Homo sapiens: one gene and its partner. The protein of the gene in region 2 purifies or fractionates together with the protein of the main gene of each other region. This does not show direct contact. Each region holds a gene or a part of one and is shown on either strand. Other genes may lie near its edges.

Region 1 (5,237 bases), on a different chromosome or scaffold from region 2:
CGTGAACTTAAATTGAGCTAAGGGTGGCTAGGCAGCAAATGTGATGTAGGACAAAGGGAAAGCTTCAACTTTCAGAGGATACTGATAAACAAATTTCTTGATCTGTATGGGTGCCATTTCCCATACTGACCCATATCAAGTTAATTTTTAATAAGAAAAACATGCCTCAAAACAAAAAGGCTTTGATTCTAGAGACTAGAGATTATTTTCTCTACTCTAGTTGAATAATTTCACCAGTAGCCCTACCATACATGAGTTATAACAAGAAATTGTATAACTCATACATAAACCAAGTATAGAAAGAGGTGGCATATGATAACCTGAACATACTGAATGCTGCCATAATAGAAAACTATATTCTTCTAGGTCCAGTAAGTACAAGTTTAAAAACAGGTATATATTTCCGATTCAGTGAACAATTTGCAAAATTGAAATTCAATGGTGGAAACTGCAAAGCAGTTTGATGACACTGTTTTAATAATTCATAGAAAGCATATATGTACACCCAATGAATTCATCTCTTTATTGCATATTGCTATTTTTAAAAAAACATGTACAGTCTCATAACACATACTTTTTTTTTCTCAGTACTATCTAACAACAGTCTTGCACCTAAAGACTAAGTGGTTCCAACTACTAAGCTAATAAGATATAAGACATATAATTAAGTTTACAAATTATGCATTTTCTTTTTGGCATTAATTTAAAAAAACAAAAAAAGTTTAAAATACACACCCAAGAGAGAAAAGTGGCTACTTACACCAGCACCAATCTAAAAAGTAGGTTTTTTTTTTGTTTTTTTTTTTTCTTTTCAACAATGGCACATGGAATTACCTGCACACAGTTTTCAGGGAAAGAAACCAAAAATGGAAATGGCAAAGGAGGCCCACCAGGATGGCCATATCAAAGGAGGATGATTAAAAGGGGCAAGAGGGACAGCTACACAAACTTGCTCCTTTATGTGACTTTCCCTCCACCTGTCTATTCCTTAAACTGTAAGACAAAGCCATTTTCAAAATACAGTTCCAAAACTGAGCCAGACCAAATTTATCCTGCTACAAATAGAAAAGAATATACATAGAGGCACTTTAGTTAAGGAACAGACAAAACCATCATTATATTCCAATCTTCCTCATCTCCAAGCCTTTTTGAGCCAAGTCTCTATCTGCACCTTTAACATGGTGTTATTGCAGACCTGGGTTAACTCGGGATTGGGGGAGTGCAACCTCTGCTTTGTATTTATGACTGTTTTATTTGCTAGTCATTTATTTCCATATAGTGTGTAGAAAGTCACTAAATTTGCAATGAGGAAAAGATGTAAAACCACAGCTCTTGACAACTCTTAGAGCACTATTTCACAGCTTTCACATAGCACAGATAACTCGCCATCTGTGCTAAGCATTATAGTTTATACAAATTATTTTTAAATAGTATGATTCCTGTACAGTGCACACATTGGTATTCTATTCATCCCTTAATATCCCCATTAGAATATAAGCTCTTTGGGGGCAGGGACTCTGTCTTGCTTACCATTGTAGCCCTACTATGCCTGGTACATAGTAGGAACTTAATAAATATTTGTTAATTGACTGAAAAACTCAATTTAGTGAGTAAATAATGTTCTAGTGCAACAGGACAAACTACTCTCTCCACAGGAAACCCAACCACAACAGGATCAATAGAAAGAAAAGAGAAAACGTTAGCCCCCAACTACAAATAAATAAAGCAAAGCCAAAAAAAAAAAAAAAAAAAAAAAAAAGTAAAAAAGTAACAGTCCTCTTTATATATCACATAATTTAAGGATATTAAGAGTTGGTAGGTTAATGGTAAGCATCTATATTTTATTTTCTAATGTTCATTGATTTTATTCATGTCTCCCTGAGAGCTTTATTTTTTTGGACTGAAATTTTACAGGTAGCTTTACTGACACACAATTTTAAAATGACAACATATAAACAGCAATCACTTCAAATATACTTAGAGATAAATAGATCTGGGCATCTCTGCTGATGTTGACATTTTGTGCATTCTTTATGTATCCTTTAGTCCAGACCTATATTTACAGAAAATGCAGCTTGTCCTACAAAACAGAAAATAGAAACTATAACAAAAAGGCACCCCATTAATTTTTTTTTTTTTTTTTTTTTTTTAGTAATCTTTATCCCTTCAGAGAATTCTTCCTTTAAGTCTTGGGTGAGATATTTTATTATTTTTAAGGTTTATATATCTATATTGTTAGAACAAGCATACTCTGGCAATGTTGTTCTTTAAAAAAAGCATGGATTGCATTTATATAGTGTTTTTTTCCAAAAATCTGAAGAAATTATCAAGAGCACTTGGCAGAGATAACTTGATGAAATCAGGGGAAAAAATTGATGTCCAACTTTTAAATATACAAAAACTTGATTGACATTCTACATAATTCAAATTGTGTGCAAGATGTTCTCAATAAACATTTACAGACTGTATCCCCACACCAATGTCAGAAATTCAAAGCTGGTCCTATTACTGATGTGATACATCAACATCACAATGTCAGCTATCAAAAATCATTTTAAATCTATGTTTTTCCAACAACTCCAGTTCCATCAATGAAAATAATTTTAAAGGATATCAAGCTTGGAAACCATAAAATATTTTGCAAGCTTTTTTTGTTTGTTTGTTTGTTTCTTCTGTTTTGCCTTTGAATCTAGGGAATGTCTCTTATCTCTTTCAGGAGATAGTATTGTGCTTCTGAACAGTCATGGCGTTCGGGGAAAGAAAATGAGCCACACTCAATGTGAATGCATACACGAAAGGTTTTGGAGCACATACATTAACATAAATCTTTTTAACCATACGTATAGGTCTCCAGACAACACTCAGACATCTATATACATTTTTTAATATATACACACATACATTTACATACACACGTTCACACATTCACTCACAGATGAAGGAAAAAATTGCCACTGTTTGGATTGCAAGGCAGTGTAATGAAACGTTCTAGTCACTTTAGAGGGCTGCTAATGAGCTTTCTAAAAAAAAGTATTCATGGAAAATTAGAAATTAAGTTTTGTGATTGGTCTCTCTCTGCTGCTGTCAGTCATCTGGTTGGTAATACGTTTGCGATTCCGTTTCAATTTAGAAAGGTCTTTGTCAAACACTTCTCCTGAGCGTAAAGCTGAAACAAGGTCATCAAACTCTCCGCTTTCTTCACTATTCTCTTTAGCTTTTCTCATTTTACGTTCCCTTTCACGTTGTTCTTTGAGCTGCAAATAGAAAGAAATAACCTCTTTGAGACATGTCAAAATGTTGCATTTTGTTTGCAGTAGAGGTCAATTCCTTGAAATATGGTAATGCTCCAGACACCAAGCTATGCTCATCCTATAACCCCCTTTGGATATCACAAGAAAGGGGGAATTGGAACATGGGGTCTCCATTGCAGGAGCAATGGACAACAAAAAACAACCACTCCCTTGTGGTTAGACCCTCACCACCTAGATTCTAGGTAAACTGCATGATATTCTAGTTAAAATAAGAGCAATTGAGGCAATTTGTGTTTCTGCTAATGAAAATTAAAAAAAAGGTATCACTATTACATAGACCCCAAATAACTAAAGCAAATGGTCATCAGGCCATTTTCCTTATATCAAAGGCTTAGCTTGTGTCTACTGTGGAAGCCTGAAACCTGATACACAATAGTTACTGTTATTAAAAGCCAACTAATACATACACATTGTAGACAATTTGGATAATTCAGATAAAAGGAAGGTGGGGGAAACATCTTTAATTCTACTACTGTGAACTTTTTAAAGGTTTATCACACCACTATTATTTTCTATATGTATTAACACACCTTAAAAAACAAAACAGAAAAAGATTTCATGTAGAAATCTTTTTCTGTATCATTATTCTTTGAATACATGTCTTTCAAGGACTGCATAAATATTCCATTATATGGCTGTTATATCATTTAGAACTCATCCCCTTTTGGTAAACATTTAGGTTGTCTTTAGCTTGGTGCTATTATAAAGAATGCTGCCCTTTTTTGTGTAAATTTATGATTATTTCTTTAAAATAATTGCTAAGAAATGGAATTCCAGAGCAAAGGATGTGGATAGATTTTTTTTTTAAGGCTTTGAATATACACTGTTAAATAGCCCAAGAGAAACAACACCAATGTAAAGTCCCACAGCATTCTAGAGAGTACATTGAAGCCTTCCTTCCTGCCAGGTCAGAGTGCTCTCTAAATACCTTTGACTGGGCTGCAGTCATAGAACTTCTAGGAGGTGGAATTGGTCAATTAATCATCCTCTCACCTGAGCTTCCATGCGAGCTCGACGTTCTTCTTCCTCCTTTTTCTTTCTCATATTTTCGTTTTCTTGTTTGGCTTCTGACACAGCTTGAAGAAATTGATCAAAAATGCCAAAGAACTCATCTGGTTGTATTTTGCCAGCCTCTTCCCCAAAGTGCTTCACTGCTTTAGTAAACTAGGAAAAAGATGGTTTTAAGAAGTCAATGTTTCATGAGAATTCCACAATCAAATATAAATAACTTGAGAAAGACCAAAGCCCAGATTGAGTCAAACGTAAGTTTTGTTTGCTCATTTATTTTTATTTCTTTCTTTCTTTTGGAGATGGAGTTTCGCCATCACCCAGGCTGGAGTGCAGTGGCATGATCCCAGCTCACTGCAACCTCTGTCTCTCGGGTTCAAGCGATTCTCCAGCCTCAACCTCCCAAGTAGCTGGGATTACAGGCACAAACCACCATGCCTGGCTAATTTTTGTATTTTTAGTAGAGTCAGGATTTTGCCATGTTGGCCGGGCTGGTCTCAACTTCTGACCTCAGGTGATCTGCCCACCTTGGCCTCCCAAAGTGCTGGGATTACAGGTTTCAGCCACCACACCCGGCAGTTTTTTTTTGTTGTTTTGTTTTAAGAGATGGGGTCTTACATGTTGCCCAGGCTGGAATGCATATGTTATTAGTTTTTTTTTTTTTTAATAGATGGGGTCTTACATGTTACCCAGGTTGGAGTTTAGTGGCTATTCAGAGGTATGATCACAGCAAAATACAGCCAAAAACTCCTGGGCAATCCTTCCTCTTAAGCCTCACGAGTAGCTGGGACTATAGGCATGTGCCGCTGCACCCGGCTGAGTCAAATATAACTGATGGATTTTAGTGAGCCTATATTTATCTTCAGCTGCTGAACATGTCTATTAATCATTTCTAAAGTAAAAATTGTAATACTCCTC
Region 2 (9,077 bases):
GCGCTCCCCTGCTAGAACCTCCAAACAAGCTCTCAAGGTCCATTTGTAGGAGAACGTAGCGTAGTCATCCCATCACCCTTTGCTCTCTTTTCGGACTCGGCCCGCCTGCACCCAGGTGAAATAAATGGCCTTGTTGCGTGTACACACACACACACACACACGCGCGCGCCGAGCATGGTGGCACACTCCTGTAGTCCCAGCTACTGGGAAGACTCAAGTGGAAGGGTTCTTTGAGCCCAGGAGGCAGAGGCTGCAGTGAGCCGAGATCCTGCCACTGCAATCCAGTCTGGCCAACACAGCAAGACCCTGTCTCAAAAAGGAAAAGAAAAAAGACTAGTAGAAAAACTCTGTAAAAGAGCCATGAAGGGAGACGGTCCCGTCAGATGCGAAAATCCTCAGGCCGGGTGCGGTGGCTCACACCTGAAATCCCAATACTTTGGGAGGCCAAGACAGGTGGATCACCTGAGGTCAGGAGTTCGAGACCAGCCTGGCCAACATGGTGAACCCCATCTCTACTAAAAATACAAAAATTAGCCAGGCATGGTGGTGGGCACCTGTAATCCCAGCTACTTGGCAGACTGAGGCAGGAGAATTACTTGAACCCAGGAGGTGGAGGTTGCGGTGAGCCGAGATTGTGCCATTATACTCCAGCTTGGACGACAAAAGCAAGACCCCGTCTCAAAAAAAAAGAAAAAAAAAAATCCTGTGTCGGGCCTCAGTTTAAAATGTGTGGTACAGTAAGATCATAGACAGGCAGTCAGAGACAGACCCAAGTACAGATGGGCATTCACTGTCTGACCAAGGCAGCCCCTTACATGAACAGGGTAAAGATAGACTTGTCTAAAAATGGCATTAGGCACCTGAGGAGCCATCTGGAAAAAGATGAAGTCAGATGCAAACCTCACTTTGTATACTAGATAAGGATCCAATGTAGTAAATATTTAAATGCTAGTGCTAGACCCAAAATAATATTAGTGTCAAGCATGACCTTTTAACTATGACTCAAATTCCAGAAGCCATACAAAAGACATGTTTTTTCTTGTCTTTTTTTTTTCTGAGACGAAGTTTCACTCTTGTTGCCCAGGCTAGAGTGCAATGGTATGATCTCAGCTCACTGCAACCTCCACCTCCCGGTTCAAGCGATTCTCTTGCCTCAGCCTCCCCAGTAGCTGGGATTACAGGCATGCGCCATCACGCCCAACTACTTTTGTATTTTTAGTAGAGACGGGGTTTCTCCATGTTGGTCAGGGTGGTCTCGAACTCCCAACATCAGGTGATTCACCCACCTCAGCCTCCCAAAGCGCTGGGATTACAGGCATGAGCCACTGTGCCTGGTCTAGAAATCTGTATTTTTACATAAAATCTTTCTATTTAAAATAATAGCCCTTCTGCTCTGGTCCTTGGGCCCTTCCTCCAAAAAATAAAAAGAGTATAATAAAAAATAAAATGTGGGCAATCTATTCAAAATTCCCCCCATGCCAAATGTTTTTGATTAAACTGCACAAGTTAAACAAATTATTATCTGCAACCTGTATGCAGTCCAGCTTATGAGAAAGATTTGAGCCTCCCCCACAGCACGGGGCTTCAGGGGCCAGATATTTTTGTTTTGTTTTTAAGACAGGGTTGGCTGGGCATGGTGACTCACACCTGTAATCCTACCATTTTGGGAGGTCGAGTCAGTAGGATCGCTTGAGTTCAGGAGTTCGAGACCAGCCTGGGCAACATGGCGAAACTCCATCTCTACAAAAAAATACAAAAATTAGCCAGGTGTGGTCTGCACACTTGTGGTCCCAGCTACTCAAGAGGCTGAGGTAGGAGGATCGCCTGAGCCCATGAGGCCAAGGCTGCAGTGAGCCATGGTCACGCCACTGCATTCCAGCCTGAGTGACAGAGCAAGACCCTGTTGAAAACAACAACAACAACAAAAAAAAAAAAAAAGAAAAAAAGAAAAAGCCAGGGTCTTGCTAGAGTGCAGTGGCACAATCAAGGTTCAATGCAGCCTCCGACTCCTGAGCTCATGTGAGTCTCCCACTTCAGCCTCCTAAGTAGCTGGGACCACAGGTGTGCCACCATGCCGTTTATTTTTGAATTTTTTGTAGAGATGGGGGTGTCTCCCTATATTGCCCAGGCTGGTCTTGAACTCCTGGCCTCAAACAGTCCTCCCACCTGGACTCCCAAAGTGCTGGGATTACAGGCATGTGTGAATACGCTTGGCCAGGGGCCAGACTGACACAGACTGTCCCTCTGTCCTTAGGGCACCCCAGGCAGAGTGGGCCCCTCCCTCCTTCATGGGAACACCTCAAGATGGTTTCCAGAAAGCCAGTATTGTGGGGCTTAAACTTAGATGAGAAGATAAAGAGCTCATCTCTGCTGCTCTCTCCCCATCCTGCACCACCAGCTCACACCTCCAGGCCTGTCCTGCCAGCTCCTTTCTCCTCCTGGAGTCCGTAGGAGCAGCTCCCGTACCTTCACTGCTTTGCTCAAAAGTCACCTTCTCATGAGGCCCACCCAGACCTTCCTATTCAAAAGAGGAAGTGGAGCTGCAGCCTCTCCAACAATGCTCGCTGCCCTCCCCACTCTGCGTCCTCCACGAGCCCTCCCCTTCTCACGCACTCTGTAACCCACCCAGAGAACCTCACACACAAGCCAACGGGCTCCTGAGGCTCCCAGCAGCCAGAGAGGTGGGAACAGATACTCCCTCACAGCCCTCAGAAGGAACCAGCCCTGCCGAGGCCTTGACCTTGGACCCTGAACTCCGGAACTGTGGGGGAATGTGTCTTGGTTGTTTAAGCTCCAGATTCTGGAGGAATCAGGTTGGATGATGGGGGCAGGGAAGGGAAGTTATCCCAGTTCAGAATAGAATGTGAACTCTCAGGGGCCCTGGGGTTGGAGGGAAGCATTTGGGAGGAACCTACATTGTCCTTGAGGCACTGGGTGGGGGGTTCTGGCTGGGTACTGTCTTCTTTTAGGTTAATGCTGGGTCCCAAAAGGCCACAACTGCTGCAGAGGGCTTGTCTGCACACAACGTTCCAGCCAGCTGACCACTTCCCCCAGACCCAGGGTTCACCTCTTTCTCAGCCCTCCCTCTTGCCTGTTCCCTCACCCCCCTGACACCCACATAGGGGTGCCTGGTCAGCATCCTGCATTCACTGTTTCCTGTGACCTGGGCCTAATCGAATTCCCCGGCCTCATTCCAGATTAGCTCACTTCTGTGCCTGGGGCTCCCTAGGTCAGCCATCCGTGAGGCATGTCCAGGAAGCCTGGGCCCGGGGTCCTTGACCTCCCCTCCCCATGATGGGTTTCCAGGGAGGCAAGATAAAGGTTCAGCCAAGATGATCACGAAGACCCAACTGGTCCCAAACTGGCGACCCGAGGCCAAAACAGCCCACAGGTGCCGCTCCTTAGACCCTCGGGGGATGCTGTCCATTTCTGGACTCAAGACAACTAAAAATACTCACCTCAGCAGATCAACTGCAGAGCTGAGCAACTGGTAATTCTGGCCACACGAGACTGAATTCCCACTTGATTAGCACCGGCCCAGCTGCCTACCAGGGTGGGCTGCCTCCAGCTCCAAAGTCCCTACACAGCCCATAGCCTCCCTCCCGGCCTGCACCCTCAACTCCACAACACGCCCCCACCCCCGCCCCCAGGTGCTGGAGTTTCTGACCCCCTGCCTCACTCAGCACTTTATAAAGGGAAGGCACATGCCCACCTCACCTGGTCCAATGAGCGCAAAAAACCCAAGACCTTGTTTGTCACCTGAGCAAACAAGGGGAGTCTAAAAGGGAAGGGACTGTCCCAAGATCACTGAGCTGGCAGTGTCAGGAAGCAAAGTTGTGTTGCCCAGCTTAGCACATTTTCCATCCGACGACACCATCTCCCTCCAGCTGTTCCCTCACCCTGGGAGAGCTGCTTCCTGGACCACTGCTCTGAAGCAGGCCCCGCCATGAGTCTCTTCTAGAGCACCATGTATTTCCTTCATTACATCTAGAGAATGTCTAACCACTCATGTGCCTGTTCACCTGTGTATCATCTGCTTCTCTTCCAAGAATCTAGGCCTCTGCCCAGACTCTTCCTTACTCAACTCCAGGGGGCGCCATTTGTGCACAGCAGCCCCTGGAGTTGTGGTGCGGGAGGTCTGGCCCCACTGAGAGAGGGACAGTCGGCTCTTGCTCACTGCAGCCTCACTGAGCCGGGCCTGTAGCAGGCCCTTACAAAAGATTTCCTGGGCCAGGCACAGTAGCTCACACCTGTAGTCCCAGCTACTCAGGAGGCTGAGGTGGGACGATCTCTGGAGCCCGGGAGGTGGAGGCTGCAGTGAGCCATGATGGTGCCACCGCACTCCAGCCTAGGTGACAGAGCGAGACCTTGTCTCATAAGAAAAAAGAACGAAAGAAAAAAAATTCCTGGGTAAAAAGCAAAGTACACAAATCGCTTGTGCCAGAAGCTGCTCTGAAACCAAGACATACCAGCTCCACCTCTCCATTGTGAAAAGCCTCTCCCAAGTCACTCAGCCCCTGGGACGTCCTCACAGCCTGCCTCTGGCGCTGGGCACCCACCCCAGATCCAGCAGAGCATGGCCGTGACATTCACCAACATTTAGTCCAAGACACCTGACCAAACTCTCCCAGAGCGTGGCTTTCTGGGATGTGCAGTAACTGTATGGCCTCACCCGGGTTGCTTGGCAATGCTGAGCCTTGGTTTCTCCTGCTCTAAATGGGATGAGGGTGAGGCAGGAGGGGGATTCAGTGAGATGCTGTTTGCAAAGCGCTTAGTATCCTGCCTGGTCTAAGGCAAGTCCTTGACATCCTCGGTAAGAATAGTGACAAATATAAAATGGCCTTGGACAGTAGAGTCCCTTACCTGTGGCCACCTTCGTGGTTCCTCTTTGCAGGAGAAGCTCCCCGCACTCCTCACTCAAGTGGCTATTGCTCTTCAGTAACCTGGGGGGAGACAGAAGGATGCTGGGTGCCTGGAGGCCAATAAAAAGGAGGTCAGATAAAAAGGAGAGGAGGGCCGGGGGGGACGGTGGCTCATGCCTGTAATCCCAGCACTTTGGGAGGACAAGATGGGCGGATCATCTGAGGTCAGGAGTTTGAGACCAGCCTGGCCAACATGGTAAAACCTCATCTCTACTAAAAATACAAAACTTAGCTGGACATGGTGGCATGTGCCTGTAATCCCAGCTACTTGGGAAGCTGAGGCATGAGAATCACTTGAACCCAGGAGGCAGAGGTTGCAGTGAGCTGAGATTGTGCCACTGCACTCTAGCCTGGGGAACAGAGCGAGATTTGGTCTCCAAAAACAAAACACAACAACAACAAAAAAATGGAGACAAGGGCAGCAAAAGGGAGGTCACCCACAAAGCGTGCATGTGTCTCGTGATTTTTTTTTCTTTTTTTTTCTTTGTGAGACAGAGTCTTGCTCTGTTGCCCAGGCTGGAGTACAGTGGCGCAATCTGGGTTCACTGCAAGCTCTGCCTCCCGGGTTCATGCCATTCTTCGTTACATCTAGAGAATGTCTAACGCCTCTTCTGGATAGATATTCAGGCGCCCGCCACCACCACGCTTGGCTAATTTTTTGTATTTTTTAGTAGACACAGGGTTTCACCATCTTAGCCATGATGTTCTCAATCTCCTGACCTCGTAATCTGCCCACCTCCGCCTTCCAAAGTGCTGGGATTACAGGCATGAGCCACCGTGCCTGGACCTTGTATTCTAATTGAGACAGGGTCTCACTTTGTCACCCAGACTGGAGTGCAGTGGCATGATCATGGCTGTCTGCAGCCTCGACCTCCTGGGGCTAAGCACTCCTCCCAACTAAGGCTGCTGAGTAGCTGGGACCACAGGCGTGTGCCACCACGACCAGCTAATTTTTTTTTTTTTTTTTTTTTTTTTTTAAATACAGGGTCTCGCTATCTCGCTCAGGCTGGTCTCTAACTCCTGGGCTCAAGCTATCTTCCCACCTCAGCTTCCCAATGTGCTGGGATTACAGGTGTGAGCCACTGCGCCTGGCCTGTGTCCCGTGTTTCGATTGCATGTTTACAGCGGCAGGGTGTGTGTGTGTGGGTGTGTGTGCGCGTGCGTGTGGTGGGGCAGTGGGGGGCTTCTCCTCCTTCAGACAACAAATATGTGTGGAGCTCTGACCTACCAGGCCCACTGCCAGATGCAGGAGGCACAAAGATGACCAAATCAGCCATAGTGGGGGTTGCGGAGTTCACATGCCTCGGGAAACAGAGGAATCAATAGGCTCTTATTGGACAGTGTGGTTACCTGCAGGGCAGGGACAGCTTGCCTGGGGGTGTCAGGGCAGGGTTCCCAGCTGAGGCCCCAAGGAGTGGGGAAGCCAGTGAGCAAGCACAGGGGAGAATTCCAGGTAAGGGAGCCCAGGCTGGAGTCCCAGAGGGGAGAGAAGGCGTGGAAGCAGCATGTGCTTGGGAGAGAGGCGGGTGCGTGAGAGGTGTGGGGAGGGTATTGGAAGTAAGGGGCATGGCTGGAGCAGGGGCAGAGGGAAAGAGAGAACGTCCCTGAAGACCCTGGGAAGCCTGGTGCTCAGCGTGACCCCAGGGAGAAACAGGCTTGTTGGGTGAGAGGGAGAAAGAAGCTTCTCCACGTCTCACGGGATGTCCTCCCCTGGACCCCACCAGCTCCCCGTCCACACCGGGCACCCACCTCTGCAGCAGCTGCTTCAGGCTGAACACGTGCGAGGGCTCCTGGGAGGCCTCTACCTGCAGCACGTGCTCTATGGCTCTCCGCTTGTAGGTCAGCAAGTTCTCCATTTCCTAAGGAGGCACAGTTGGCTGGTGGGCAGGGATCCAGGCTGCAGACGAGGTCTCTGCCCCTCCTAGCCCTGCCCTCTGCTCTCAGCTGAGCCCCTCTCGGCAAAGGGGCACACAGCCCCAGCCCTGGCTAGTCAGCCCCACGATTCTGAACGAGTCTTTGCTTCGCCTCAGTCACAGCCAGCCTGGTCTTGCCTGCGGCCAGGGACAGTTGAAGAGATCAGGTGGGATGATGGAGAGGAAGGGGAATCTCTGTCAACTGCCAAGTGCTTTGCAAAGGCATGAAATTAGGGTCCGGAGGCCACGAACCATCTGGGGTTGGCAGTTTCATCTGGTTCAACGAATGCCATCATTCTCAGTGGCAGAAAGGGACTGGCAGAAAGGGCGCATTTCTGGGGCTTCCAAGCTCCCCCATGATGTGTGGCTCACTCTGTGAGGACAGCCTCAGGCCCACTGCCTGGGGCTGCAGAGGGGGGCATCTCCCATCTACCCATGCCTGAGAATGCAGGACAAGAGGACCAAATGCCCCTCTTGACTCGCCCAGGAGGAAGCCCCTGGGGGCACTGCACTTGTCAATTCAGTGGGTGAAATGCAGAAAGAAGGGAGTGTCTGCTGTCTGCCATCTGTAAATTGGATCCTTATAATAGCCCCTGAGCTAGCTGAGCTCATGCAAGGAACATTTACTGAGCCCTTACTAGGTGCCAGGATTGGGGATGTGGTGACAGAGATGGACATGATCCTTATCCTTATGGGATCTGCCGTCATTCTTTTTTTTTTTTTTTTTTTTTTTTTTGGGAGACGGAGTTTCCCTCTTGTTGCCCAGGCTGGAGTGCAATGGCGCAATCTCGGCTCACTGCAACCTCCGCCTCCTGGGTTCAAGCGATTCTCCTGCCTCGGCCTCCCAAGTAGCTGGGATGACAGGCATGTGCCACCACGCCCAGCTAATTTTGTACTTTCAGTAGAGACGGGATTTCTCCATGTTGGTCAGGCTGGTCTCGAAATCCTGACCTCAGGTGATCCGCCAGCCTCGGCCTCCCAAAGTGCTGGGATTACAGGCGTGAGCCACCGCATCTGGCCGATCTGTGGTCATTCTATGGACAAGAAAACTGAAACTGATGAGACTTGTGTCACAACTGATAGGCTGAGACCTTGGCAAGAAAATGACAGGATGTCAGAGCTGGCCAGGTCATTGAGCCCAACCTCATTTTACACGTGCGGGAACTAAGGCCCAGAGAGGCAAAGTAACTTGCCAGGGGTCACCCAGCAGGTAAACCAGGCCAGGACTCAGACGCAGAGACAGTACTGGTTATGGGTAGTGGTGGTCAGAGGGGTCAGTCCTTGTTCCTTCAGTTCACATTTAGGGCTGTCATGTGTGGTGGTGCAATGTGGACACAGTGCAAAGGCATTCGACTGGGTGTGAGTGCAGTGTGCCGGCCCAGCTGTGTGCCCTAGAACATCTTCCACCCATGGCCGCTGCCCTCTTCCACTGCCTGCCACTGCGTGATCAGCCTGGCATTCTGCAGATCCCGAGCCACACATCCAGTTTCCAAGGGGTCCCCCACACCCCTTGTCCTGACCACTGCTAGGGGTATAAGCAGCAGAAGCCTGTCATCTGTTGGGGAGCGGGTCCCTGACTCCCCTTTCCCACCCTCTGCCGCCTCCTCGTGCTTCCCTAGTGTCCACCAAAGGAGACAGGGCTGGGAGCGCTGCCCGGGGCCCAGGTCCTCCCTAATGACAGCATGCACGAAAGCCCGCTTCTCACATCTGATTCCAGGAGAAAGAGCGGCGTGTCCAGCAAGATAAGTTTATCCACCATCTCGGGGAAGGTACAGAAAAACTGTGAGGATGCCAAAAGGGGAGAATGAATAGGGGGAAGAAGGAAAGGACACTCCCGCCTTTCCCTGGGGACCCTGGAGTTCCCCGAAACATCTTTTAGGCTGGGGGGAGGGTGCTGACCAAGAGGCCAGAGGAGAATCTTCTATCTATGGTGTGCCTTCCCCCACCACCCCTAAGTCTGCACCCAGCACTGAGCTCCAGACCTTGGTGATGGCTGGACTCCAGGGTGCGGTGGGACCGGGTATGGGGGCGTGGAAACATGAACTCTACCAGGAGTCTCCACCGTTTACACCAACTTCCTGGTATAAGGACTGTCACTGTGACAGGAGGAGGCACTTTCTGTCCCAGGTACCTTCTCCTTCCTCCTTTGTGCTCCCCTCCCCACTCCACCCAAGGGAGCCCCAGTTGGCCAGACAAAGCCATCTACTCACCATTCCGCCCACGACGCCACCTGGGGGACAAA

The links.
Region 1: the proteins of SERHL2 (region 2) and DAAM1 purify together in Homo sapiens (affinity purification with mass spectrometry; 2 studies listed by BioGRID and IntAct, with this or other methods). This does not show direct contact.

The regions. Positions count from the first base shown.
Region 1 is NC_000014.9:59,366,667-59,371,903, reverse strand, and holds the end of DAAM1 (disheveled-associated activator of morphogenesis 1), read right to left. Parts: intron 4,476-5,237; coding exon 4,305-4,475; intron 3,255-4,304; coding exon 3,045-3,254; 3' UTR 501-3,044; downstream 1-500. UniProt on the Homo sapiens protein: Binds to disheveled (Dvl) and Rho, and mediates Wnt-induced Dvl-Rho complex formation. May play a role as a scaffolding protein to recruit Rho-GDP and Rho-GEF, thereby enhancing Rho-GTP formation. Can direct nucleation and elongation of new actin filaments.
Region 2 is NC_000022.11:42,556,052-42,565,128, reverse strand, and holds part of SERHL2 (serine hydrolase-like protein 2), read right to left. Parts: exon of another isoform or gene 9,066-9,077; coding exon 9,046-9,065; intron 8,616-9,045; coding exon 8,541-8,615; intron 6,782-8,540; coding exon 6,672-6,781; intron 4,944-6,671; coding exon 4,864-4,943; intron 1,741-4,863; coding exon of another isoform or gene 1,660-1,740; intron 106-1,659; coding exon of another isoform or gene 65-105; exon of another isoform or gene 1-64. UniProt on the Homo sapiens protein: Probable serine hydrolase. May be related to cell muscle hypertrophy.